Regions from separate parts of the Homo sapiens genome. Here all the other regions are linked to region 3. The links come from fine-mapping of genetic effects on gene expression. A gene starts in region 3. Each other region holds a variant in brackets. All regions are shown on one strand. Distances are between the middles of the regions.

What was found. PIP is the estimated chance that this variant, and not a neighbour inherited with it, causes the effect.
Region 1: its variant is the best candidate, but not a certain one, in a credible set for the expression of COQ9 in sigmoid colon (GTEx, PIP 0.56).
Region 2: its variant is the best candidate, but not a certain one, in a credible set for the expression of COQ9 in sigmoid colon (GTEx, PIP 0.66).

What each region holds. Positions count from the first base shown.
Region 1 is chr16:57,311,469-57,315,699 of GRCh38, forward strand. No RefSeq gene overlaps it. Among named protein-coding and RNA genes, the nearest start is that of TRL-CAG2-2, 13 kb to the left of the region's middle. The variant A/G (reference allele first, on the strand shown) is at 1,813.
Region 2 is chr16:57,470,668-57,474,906 of GRCh38, forward strand. POLR2C (RNA polymerase II subunit C) reads left to right here. Exons shown (of 9, transcript NM_032940.3): 9 at 308-1,342. The coding sequence ends at 452. It overlaps DOK4 (docking protein 4), which reads right to left. Exons shown (of 9, transcript NM_018110.5): 6 at 4,126-4,239; 7 at 3,234-3,372; 8 at 2,946-3,069; 9 at 1,255-2,828. The coding sequence ends at 2,710. Among named protein-coding and RNA genes, the nearest start is that of POLR2C, 10 kb to the left of the region's middle. RefSeq lists enhancers at 2,323-2,844, 2,845-3,365, 4,031-4,239. The variant C/T (reference allele first, on the strand shown) is at 2,336.
Region 3 is chr16:57,445,347-57,449,346 of GRCh38, forward strand. It overlaps COQ9 (coenzyme Q9), which reads left to right and starts at 2,133. Exons shown (of 9, transcript NM_020312.4): 1 at 2,133-2,232. The coding sequence starts at 2,160. It overlaps CIAPIN1 (cytokine induced apoptosis inhibitor 1), which reads right to left and starts at 2,039. Exons shown (of 9, transcript NM_020313.4): 1 at 1,996-2,039. RefSeq lists an enhancer at 1,951-2,245.

The sequences.
Region 1 (4,231 bases), 130 kb before region 3:
TGTGTGTGTGTGTGTGTGTCAGAGAGAGAGAGAGAGAGGAGAGTCTTAGGCTACGTGTGTCCCCACCAGACCCCACACTCATGTGAGCTGGGACTCTTCAATCCCCACAGATCTTGGTGCCTGCTTCCCTGTAGGAACTGTTTTTGTTTTTGAGACAGGGTCTTGCTCTGTCACCCAGGTTGGAATGCAGTGGCTCGATCATGACTCAATGCAGCCTCAACCTTCTAGGCTCAAATGATCCTCCCACCTCAGCCTCCCGACTTGCTGGGACTTTAGGCATGCACCACCAAGCCTGGATAACTTTTGTATTTTTTGTAGAGACAGAGTCTCACTATGTTGCCCAGGGTGGTCTCGAATTTCTGGACTCAAGTGATCCTCCTGCCTTGGCCTCCAAAAGTGCTGGGATTTCAGTCACTGAGGCTGGCCTCCTTGTAGGAAGTATTTATTAATTGAAAGAACAAATGAATAAATCCCCCAATAAATCCCCAATTCAGAGTGTTTCCCCCGTATGTTCATAGCACCCCAACTAGGGCCCTCAGTACTTGTGCTCAAGTCCTCAAGATTACATTTTGGGGATCCAGTTCTCTCCTGGTTAATGTCTGACTATGGAAGAGAAGGATGTTCCTCTCTCCACCTGCCCAGCTCTTCAATTGACCTCTTGGCCATCAGATTGAGTGGCCACCCTGTGCCAGCCCCAGAGACCCCACGTGGGTCTGGGGGCAGTACTGTGTGTTTTCATGAAGTTCCTAGTTGTCTCTGGAGTGTTCGGGAACCACATTTACAGGTGAGTCAAATGGAGCCACAACTGAATGTTCAGGTCCCCATCCTCTGAGAACTGTTGGGGGAAAACTGAGGTAAGGGATTTGGAAACGTTCAGAGAAGATGAAGAGGGTCTGGAGCAAGGGTGAGTGCAGATCCTCAGGAGCAGATGGTCCCTTTCAAGCTATTTGTGCACACCTCAGGAGGCAGGAGTGTTGAACTGTGAGGTTCTTCATCAAATCTCTTCAAGGCATTAGTGCCATGTGGGTGGGAGAGGTGACGAAAGGAAGCCCTAGAATTCTGCTAGCTTGGCGAGGGGCGGTGGCTCACGCCTGTAATCCCAGCACTTTGGGAGGCTGAGGTGGGCAGATCACCTGAGGTCAGTAGTTCAAGATTAGCCTGACCAACATGGAGAAACCCCGTCTTTATTAAAATTACAAAAAATTAGCTGGGCGTGGTGGCACATGTCTGTAATCCCAGCTACTCAGGAGGCTGAGGCAGGAGAATCGCTTGAACCTGGGAAGCAGAGGCTGTGGTGATCCGAGATCACGCCATTGCACTCCAGCCTGGGCAACAAGAGCGAAACTCCGTCTCAAAAAAAAAAAAAAAAAAATTCTGCTAGCTTACCGGCAGATCACCTGAGATTAGGAGTTTGAGACCAGCCTGGCCAACATGGTGAAACCTCGTCTCTACAAAAAATACAAAGATTAGTTGGGCATGGTGGCACATGCCTGTAGTCCCAGTTACTCGGGAGGCTGAGGCAGGAGGATCAGTTGAGCCCCGGAGGTGGAGGTTGCAGTGAGCCGAGATCGTGCCACTGCACTCCAGCCTAGGCGACAGAGTAAAACTCTTTCTCAAAAATAAATACATAAAATAAAAAGAATTCTGCTGCCTTGGAATCTTGGGCAGAAGGGCAAGGGCATTGAGGGAGGGGCCCAGCTTTGGCCGGGGGACAGGTGGCATCTGGCTGGCACAATAGTGTAACTAGAAGACCACAACTAGGACTTGATCGGGCAGAAGAGGACAGGACTTTGGCGGTGATGGCTTGGCCAC[A/G]AGATGGATGTGGCGTCTCTGAGGGGTGGGCTCTGACAGAGGGTATGAGGGGAGGCTGGTGGGGATGGGTGTGTGCCAGCATCTATGTCTATGGGTGTGTAGAAGTGTGTCTTTGTGTCTCTGGAAATGAGAACACGTGTGAGTGTCTGAAGTGTGTTTTTGTACATTGCACATGTGTGATTGTGTGCAAGTGTATATGTTGGTTCAGAAATAGTCTATGGGGATGAGGGCACTGGGCTGGGTGAGTGTATATATGTCTGTGGAGGCATTTTCATGCAGCTGGGTTAGTCACTGTGGGGTTTTGTGTGTATGTGTGTGTGTATGTGTGTGTAAGTGGGTGTATATGTGTATATATGTATATATGTGTGTATGTGTGTATGTGTGTGTATATGTATATGTGTGTATGTCTGTGTGCATGTGCGTGTATATGTGAGTATGCATGTGTATGCATGTGTGTGTATGTGTGTGTATATGTATGTGTGTGTGTGTATGCGTGTATATGTTTGTGTGGTGGGGATGAGGAGTGATAAGGATGGGGCAAAGAAGCACTATGAACTTGGGATTGAGCTGATCAGAGCTGTACTGCTGGTAGACTTGTGGAAAGTTCTAGACTTGGGGGCAGAAGAGCCATATTCAAATCCCACCTTTGCCACTTTTCAGCACATGGCCTCAATGGTTTCTCCCCCTCTCCGTGCCTCAGTTTCCTCATCTATAAAATGGGCATCATTACCCTTATGATCTCCTGGGGCTGACCAGGACACCAAGAACCCTGGTGGCTCAGTTCACCCTGAGGAAAGGGAATGAGAAGGGGGCTCCTGTTCTTCTGTGCTCTTGGAATTTCTTACCAAGAGCATGTGTTATTTTTATAATAAAAAAGAAGCTGGAAAAAGGTGTCGGTGAACTGGAACCCCTGGACACATTTCTCAGCCCAGCTGGGGAGATGCTTGTGGTTCTGGAGAGAGAGGACCACAGTCAGGGCTTGAGGTTGTTTGCCAGGGGATAGGGTGTGAGGCTGGGTAGGCTCTGGATGGCCTCTCCCTCCCCAGGAGCCAGCTCTGAATGTCATTGCCTAACTTTGAGAAGATAGGGATGCTGCTTCCAGGAGGCCTGCCAGCTTGTATACCTGACCAAGGAGAATGGAACCCCACCCAGTGCCTGGACAAACAGGACAAAATCACCTGCAGAAACAGCTCCTACCAGACATGAGATTAAGTCAAATGGAAACTTAGCTTTCACAATGTCAGTTTCTTTTTCTTTCCTTTTACTTATTGACTTTTAATTCTCCCATGTCCCAGATGAATCACAAAAAGCTGTTATCAGAGATTTCCTCTGATTACCTTGCCTCTGGGGAGGGAGGTAAAGGCTTTCACTTTCCTTTTTTGTACCTTTCATAATAAGGTTTGAATTTTCTAACCTTGTGTATCTCTTTTCCCTGTTTCTGCCCCCACTTCCTCCTCCTGCAGGCATTAGGTCTCTGACCAGAGATCCTGCCTTTTGGGGGGTTTTCTTCTTGGAATCTCAGTGTATGTGTATTAAAAGGAAACAAAAACTGCAGTCAATGTTATATAATTTTTTAAAAATACCAAAGTGCTGGATTTCAATACTTTTCTATTTTTTACAGTGCATACATATATATGTATATATATGTGTGTGTATATATATCCCCCCCACAGGGATTACATTTGCATAATTTAACTTTCAAAAGGTGCAAAGTAAGAATAAACAGATGAAAACTTTCCTTCCATCCCTGACTCCTGCTTCCTTCCCCAGAGGCAAGCCCTGCGGTACTGGTTCCTCATGTAGCCCTCCAGGAAATTTTCTGCATATACAAGTTGATGTATACAGGCATTCCCACCTTCCCCCACCTTTCTCCTTAAACTGTCATCTTCTATGCATACTGGCCTTGTTCTTTTTCCTCCTCCACTTAACAATGTATCTTGGTGGTTGTTTGCAAGAGCACAGAAATGCCTATAAAATCTGGTCATTTTACAGAAGGGGAAACTGAGGCCCAGAGAGGTCTAGAACCCAGTCTTGAATCACGGTTCAGGGCTCCTTCTTCAAGTTGAAGGTGAAATGGGTAGGGATAAACTTTTCCTGCTCAGACACATCCTTTTACAAGGCTCCTTCACTGAGTGAAATGGAACTTAGGCCAAGATTTATTTGTTTGTTTGTCTTAGGTGCCTCGGATTCTCAGAAGGAAAACAGGAAACCAGTGCCTCGCTCCCTCAGAGATGGCTGCCTTCCAGCCCAAACAGGGGTCTGGTCTGTGGAACTCCCTCCAGCTCTGCCACGATAACTGTGTGGCCTCCGGTGGGTCGCCTCCCCTCTCTACATCTCCCCAGCTGGAATTTGTTGCTTTCTCTTCTGGGTTCCCACAACATGGTTTATAACCATTTCAACCAACCCCCTAACTTCCTCT
Region 2 (4,239 bases), 25 kb after region 3:
AAAGGTCTATCACTGGTCACTGCTCACTTGGTTTTCCACTCTCTCCTCAGGGGGCATGCATACATACAGAACTTTAGGATTTTCACAGGTACCTTATGAGGTAGTTGTAGCCTCCTTGAGGTTGTGCAAAGTGTGTTGAAACTACCCTATGTAAGAGGTTTTACATGAAAGGAAGTTAGCCCTGGCCCAAGGTCAAGTTCCATGTGGGAACAGAGCCAAGACCCGGAAGGAGGAAGGGTTGTCCATGGCCAGAGCTCGGGTCGGCCAGCCTGCCTCGCAGTGCACTCACTGGACTCTTGCCTCCTAGGTTTTACTACAATGTGGAGTCCTGTGGCTCTCTGCGTCCTGAAACCATTGTCCTGTCAGCCCTCTCAGGATTGAAGAAGAAACTGAGTGATTTACAAACTCAATTAAGCCACGAGATCCAGAGTGATGTGCTAACCATAAATTAACTGCAGCTTGCCTGCTTCAGCAAAAACGGAGATTCAGGCCAGCAGCTGGATATGGGGGTCTCTCTTCAGACTCTTCTCGTTTCTGAGAATCTAGTCTACTGTTGGTTGAGCTTCTTGGCAGGACATCAGTACCAACTAGAAGTGGGTCATAGATAGATTACCAGGGATGCAGTGGTGTTTAGGCAGGATAGGTCTTTACTGGCCCTGACTGCTGTTAATAATTGGCAGCAGTGCTCCCCAGATCCCAGAAGGTCCCTGCTGGAGTGTTTCCAGTGCACCTGTAGGGAACCAACTAGACTTCTCTCCTGGTTAGTCCAGCTCTTTACTCTAAACCCTTTCTGTCCAAAATGAGTCATTTTCAGTTGTACCTTAGATGTCTGGTGTTGAGGATCAAGTGCCATAGCCTTTATTCAGGGGGCCTATAAACCCTTCCAGTTCTTGCCCCAGGGCTGGCCTGCTAGCGCTTCAAATTCCCAGGTGTCCCTAATTTGAGAAGTAACCTTTTGGAATAGCATTAGACCCTGGCTGTCCCCTCCCCACCAAATAAACATGATATTTCATTCTCTGTCCAGCAGTCATGAACCCCTTCACCTCCAATGACCTGATCATTTAGTTTGGTGGGGGTGGGGGTGGGGGTGGGGGTGGAAGCAGCCGCAGGAGCAAGGGCCCCTCCCACATACACAGGAGGAGTATTTCATTTCTCCTTAATGAAGGCTCTGGCCCTAACCCCTCAGCACTGTCTCCAGATAGGAACATGCACAAAGCAGTTAATTAGGCAGCCTGGAGAAAACCAGAGATCCAGTACAGAAAGGAAAGGATATTTATTGATTAACAGAAGTTGTCTTTTTAAAAGTGTTTATTTTTGGCAATAAAGAGCACAACATAATCTCCTTCATGCGTCATCGTGCCACTTAGCTGAGCCAGCCAGCTCTGCCTCCCTCCCCAAAGACCTTTGGACCCCAGTTCCCCTCTACAGGCTAGCTCATCCCTCTGGGTGGTCATTCCCCGGGTCACGTTGAGAGCGAGGCTGACTGCACCACCTCCCTAGCTCAAGGGCTCCTTTGGGAGGGGCCGCGTGCTTTATCATCCTCCTGCCACAACTCAAATAGTGGTTATTTACAAGAAGGTCTGTTCCCACAAATCAGGACCCTAAAGTATTAAAAAACAAAACCCAAAAAACAACAAAAAACCCCACACAACCAAAAGTTTGACGTGAATAGAAAGATAGCCCTTCTGCATGGTAGTCAACAAATACCAGCACTAGAAAATCAATTGCTTTAATTGCATTGCAGCAGGGAGCCTCAGCACCATGTGGGGAGGAGGAAATGGGAAGGTCTTGGTTTCAGAGTGCTTTTGGCTGGCCAGAGGGTGGCCAAACAGGGCAAGGGGGCTCCCTCTGCTTGGGCATTGTCCACCCCTGGTCAGTGAGAGGGGGGCAGCAGGGGTGCTCCCCACGGCAGTCCTGCTGCGGCCTTCCCTCCTGGCCTATTCCTGGGGCAGGAACAAGCTCCAGCCTTCCTCCACATGGCTGAGGTAATCAGCACCCCTACCCCAGGGGCATCTTCCCAGCCTACAAAGCAGGAAGGAGCCTGTGCAGAAGTTACATTTTAAAACCAGATTTTCACCTGAGGCGTCAACCAGATGTCACCTCTGCTTAAAACTCCAACTGCAAGGCTGGCAAGCAGCACAGAGGAAGTGCAGATCCTTCCTGTGTCACTCCAGGCCCAGAGGAACTGAGAAGCCACCTGCTGTTCCGGCCCTTGGGCTGTCTGGGAAAAGCCAGCAGTCAGAGTGCCAGCCTCAAGCTCTGATTATCCCCCTCCTGTGGCCCTGGTAGTTCAAGCAGGTCCTGGCAGCAGGAGGGCTGTGCCATGGAGGATGGA[C/T]ACGACTGCACTCATACTCAAAAACAGCCTTGACCGTGGCCTGGTCATGGGATTAAAAAATTTGTGTGTATTGGTGGGGAAGGATGGGGTGAGGGTGAGGGGATCTCATTGATACAGAGTATGTCATAAGCCATATATATTAAAATCATTAACAGTATATAGTCCCACGGTAGCTCCAACCCCTCACACATGCTCAGGTGGTGTGGCCAGCCCTTTGCCTCAGTCCAGCCTCATCCTTGGGGGCAAGGAGGGGGCAGCTTGCTCCCTTTCTCCAGGCTCTTGGCCGACAGCCCCCTGAGGCTGTCCACGGTACACTGCAGCCAGCCCCGCAGCAGGCAGCCCCCAGCAGTCATCGGTGCTCGCCAGCACTGTGGTCACTGGGATGGGGTCTTGGCCTCACTGCTGTCCCCCTGGCTGGGCTTTGGCTTTAGCAGGATGAATCTGTTGAGGAGGTCTGTTTCCGAGCTGGCCTGGGCTGCCCCATACCCCTCACCTGTGGGCACAGAAGCAGGCTCAGAACTCAGAGCTAGGTCAAAAGACCCCTGCCCAATAGGCCTCATCCTCCACAAAGCCTCCTGGCAGGTGGGTGTGGGGCATGGAAGCGACTCACCAGCATAGCTGGAGGCTTCGGCGATGTTCTGGGAACCAGTGATGTGGTGCCAGTAGGCACTGCGCGGCAGCATGGTCGTGGGTGTGCAGGGATACGAGTAATGTTCCGTGCCCTTGTTCAGCAGCTGTGGGGCAAAGGAAGGGGTCACTCCCATTAGTGGCTTACAGTATCCCTGAGCAGCCACCCCAAGACCCTACCTGCCTCCACTGTGTACCCCAGGCACTTGGCCCTGCCTGCCCGCCCGTTCCCCCCTCCCCCCGTACCCTGGACTGATGCCCGCTGCCTCACCCTCACGTTCTTCTCCATTTCCAGCAGGACCCGCTTGTGCTGCTCTGCGATGGCCAGGGTGGCACTGTGGACGCGCTGGTAAATCTGCTCCCCCTCTTGTGTCTGGAAGGTATAGAGTCCTTCCCCAGCATCACACATCCTGGGGACACAGCACAGAGGGCAAGATGGTGGGGACCCACCACAGACATGCATGTGATTAGTTAGGCTCTCTTGCAACTGCAAGTTGTGGTTGCATTCCAGGCCGGGAGGACAGGTAGGGCTGTGGTCTGGGGGTCCGACCACACGGTGCAAATGTGCTGAGCATATTCTATACCAGCTGGTGCTTGAAATGCATTATAAGAATTAACCCATTCAGTTTTCTCTACCACCTCCCTCTGGTCTCTGTACCATTAATGGTTTCCTCATTGTTATGCATTTTCCCAAACCATTTTATAGATGAGGAAACTGAGGCATACAGAAGCTAAGTAACTCAACCAAGGTTCTGCAGAGGATTATATGGAATTTCAGTCTAGGCAGACTGACTCCAGAGTTCAAGTGAGGGGATACCCAGTCTTCACTATAATTCTAGGAGGTTAGGTACTTTATTATCCCCGAAACCCAGACTCAGATCCACAGTCACAGAAGTAGTAAGTGCCTGAACCTGCATTTGACTTAAGCCAAAGTAGTATATGATTTTTGGTAAATAGCTTCACTTGACCTGCATGCTGTGGGCAAGTTACTCCTCTAAGCCTCCATTTCATTTCTTCGTCTGTAAAATGGGAACATTACATTCCCCCTTGGGATTGCTAGGCCAATAAGTAAACCAAGCTCCTAGCACAGTGCCCAACACAGAGTGAATGGCAGCCACCATCACACCATAGTAGGACAGGGCTGGGAGGCGAGAGGGTCCTACCGGCCAGCCTCGAAGGTAAAGCGTGTGGCATCCCGGCCATAGCGGCGCAGTGAGCAGAGGGGCCACGAGACGAGCTTCACACGGGGGTTGTGGATGTCCCAGAGGTAGATGTTC
Region 3 (4,000 bases):
AAATACAAAGATTAGCTGGGCATGGTGGCGTGCACCTGTAATCCCAGCTACTTGGTAGACTGAGGTAGGCAGAATTGCTTGAACTCAGGAGGCGGACGTTGTAGTGGACCAAGATCTTGCCACTGCACTCCAGCCAGGGAGACAGAGTGAGACTCCATCTCAAAATAAAAAAAAATTAAATTAAAAACATAAAATTAACTAACTGAAGCTCTTGTGCACATACATGTCACTGCCTGGCCTCTGGGTGACCAGTACCAAGTGGGCCTAACCAGCCTGCTGTGCAATCCAAGTCAGCCATTGCCCCTCTCTGGGCCTCAGTTTCCCTGCCAGCTTTAGCAGAATGGTAGGAAGGCACAATTACAACCTGCAAATGAGACCTAAGAAACCTACTATGTGCCTGTCCCTACACGGGAGACAGACAAGAAGACACTTGTTCCCTGCCCTCAAGAGAACGCTCTGTCTAGACACTTAGACTAAGACCTTAGAGGTTTTTTTTTTTTTTTTTTTTTTTTTTTTTTTGGCAGAGTCTTGCTCTGTTGCCCAGGCTGGAGTGCAATGGCACAATCTTGGCTCACTGCAACCTCCGACTCCGGGGTTCAAGCGATTCTCCCGCCTCAGCCTCCCAAATAGCTGGGATTACAGGCACCCACCACCACACCCAGCTAATTTTTGTATTCTTTGTAGAGATGCGGTTTCGCCATGTTGCCCAGGCTGGTCTCGAACTCCTGAGCTCAAGTGATCCACACGCCGCAGCCTCCCAAAGTGCTGGGATTACAGGCATGAGCCTGGCCCAGAATTTTTTTTAAAAAGTGAGAATCAACAATGAAACAGGAACGTCTCCAGGCATTTGGCGTGTGTCAGGAATTAGGGTTTCAGAAAGGATACCCAAATGTTAGTTTCCACAGGAAAGGCTCATTCAAAGATGGATGGATAGAACTCAGAAACAAATCCTTATGGAGAGGAGTGTTTTACCTAAAACCAGAAATATGGATCTAAAATTTTAACCTTTGGGGTAAGTTTTGGCTTAGGAGGTCTTCCCCGCACCCGTGCAGGGGGGAGCCGGATATTCTGAAAAGACTAGATTTGACAAGGGGTGTGCAAAGCACAACTTTAACAGACACAATGATGGGGTCTGACTGCAAACACAAAATCGACAGAATCACATGCTCTTGTCGTCAGTTACTCTTAGCCCAAAAACCGTTTACTTCTTCCTACTAAGCCTTCTCTGATGACACCCCCGTGAAGTGCTCTGTTAGTGGCTAGACCGTGACCTCCTTGAGCCATCCAGAGCTTGGCACTCAGTAATGTCAGAATGAAGGGCACCAGCCTTTCCCGAACTTGCAGATCCTACAAATCACCCGAGGGAGTGGTTAAAATGAGATTCCTGGACCACACCCAGACCCACTCAATCAATCCTTCTGGACAAAGGCCTAGCTGTCTGTTCTAGTAACAAGCATCCTTCCGATCTGGATACTTAATTATATCAACTCAACACGCTGGGGGTTCGGACAAGTTGCAGGTTCGAAATTACAATCGTGAGCTCAGGTACCCCCCGACTCCAAGGCTTTCGTGCTTTGCTGCCAGGAACCCCCAGGGACCAAAACGTCACGGGGACTGAGGCCCAAGGTCACAACGATTGGCTACTGGTAGGACCGGGTCTCAGAACCAGGTCTCCCCGATCCCAAGCTCGGAGCCGTTTCTCCTCAGCGTGGTGTCCCCGGGGCCTCAGAGTAGGGCCGGCTGCGCAAGGGACGAGGCAGCCGGGGAACGGCAGAAATTCCCAGTCAGGACCCCAGGGAGGTTAGGGCCGGCCCTGGCCCCTCACACCGACTTCTCAGGAATAAACCAGCCGGGGCTTTCAGCGGGGCGGCCGTGGCTGCGTTCCCATCGAGGAACGGGGTGGGAAGAGAAAATGAGAGGATGTGGGAACGAGGGTGGGCCGGGAGGGGACAGTTGAGGGAGCTCTGGCGCTCAGCTGGCCCCCACCACTCTCACCTGCCGCCTGGGCTCGCTCCCGGCTTCTCTCCAGCCGTCGACTCCACGCCTTGCGCCTCTCGCGAGAGGAGGAGGCTCCACGGAGCGACGACTTCCGCCCTCCTTAGGGCCGTGGTCCCGTAGCTACCGGTCGCGTCGCCGTGGGCGACGTGCCCGCTTCCAAAATGGCGGCGGCGGCGGTATCTGGTGCGCTTGGCCGGGCGGGCTGGAGGCTCCTGCAGCTGCGATGCCTGCCCGGTGAGGGGGCTGCCAAGCCGGGGAGAGGCGGGGAGCGCGGAGGGGGCGCGAGGCCGGCTTCAGCTGGGTTCGACGGTGGGGGGAAGAGGCCGTTGGGGCGGCCCACGAGCAAGGTGAGGTGAAGGGCATCGGCGCGGGCTCGGGCGAGCCGCCTGGCTAGCTTCGGCCCTGCTCCGCTGTCTGTGAGGGGCAGATGCAGCGGGGCAGGGCCTGTCACCCCCATTTCATGGAGTTGGCAGAGCCTCAGAGAGGGCTCGGGGTACGAAAGTCACGCAGCCTGAGCCTGTTGGTTACAGAACTGGCAGTCGCAGACCCATTCTCAAGTCCATTGCCAAGTCCACTGGAAGGACAGGTGGACACGGCCACAGAGAGCCTAGTCCATTGTTTCCCGAAAGCCAGCCGTTTCCTCACCACTTCACGAATTCTGTGATACTCTCTTACCACCTTTGCCACTATGTACTCAGTATTTTTATTTTTAAATAGGAGTTCTTAAAGAGGAAACTTTATATCATTGTCATAAATGGAAAACTAATATCGCCTTCCTTAATTAGAACGTATGCATTAACACTTTAGCATACATACATAACTGATGAAACGTTCACCTGTATTTCACCTAAAATCTTCTCATGACCCTCAGTGGTACTACAGTCATACTTTGCATCTGCTCCTTCCTTTTCAAAGTTTTGCGGATATTTGTGCCGTATCTTTCAGTACATGTATTAAAATATTGATATTTTGGCACATACTATTCTGTTTCTTTTTTTTCTTTTTTTTTTTTTTCTGAGACAGGGTCTGGCTCCTCAGCCTCCCAAGGAGCTGGGACTACAAGTGCGTGCCACCCTACTTGGCTTAATTTTGTTGTTGAGACAGAGTCTCACTCTGTCACCCAGGCTGGAGTGCAGTGGTACAATCTCGGCTCACTGCAGCCTCTACCTCCTGGGTTCAAGTGATTCTCCTGCCTCAGCCTTCCTAGTAGCTGGGGTTGTGCCACCATGCCCAGCTAATTTTTTATTTTTAGTAGACGGGGTTTCACCATGTTGGCCAGGCTAGTCCAAAACTCCTGACCTCAAGTTATCTGCCTGCCTCAGCCTCCCAAAGTGTTGGGATTACAGGTATGAGCCACCGCCTAGCCCCCTTTTGTTGTATTTATACAAAATTCCAAACTAAAGATGTGTAGTAAAAGTAATGTCTATGACCCCGCAAATCCACCAAGAGAAATGAAGGTATGTGTCTACAAAAAAGTTAGTACAAGTATATTCATAGCAATTTTATTCATAGTAGCCAAACACAGAAACAGTCCAGTTGTCTAGCAACAGAATAGTATTTTTTTTATGGAATACTATTCTGCAATAAAAACTAAAAATCAGTCAAAGAGAAAGCTGGACACTAAAGTGATAAGGACCATTTTTAATCAGTAATAACTATTGCAATAGGGAAAAGAGTCTAGCATGAACGGAGCCCAACCTTGAGTTTAGAGCATGCAGAAGTCACTGGGTGTTTCAAAGAAAAAATGAGGGAGGAGGGAGGAAGGCAGGTGGGGACTCAGTAGAGTCAGGATAGTGAATAATTATAAATAAGATTGGTCTGCTAGCTGGCAGTTAACAAAGTTAGGATTCTGTTTTCCCACAGGGAGACAAGCCCTATCCTTCTTAAGTGTTAGCCTGAACAAACAGTAAAATTTTTTTTGACAGCCTTGAGTTTTCTCAGGCAGGCACTTTAAAGGGGGGTAGGGTTATCTTAAGGGATGTGGCCCTGAGTGATGCTTATG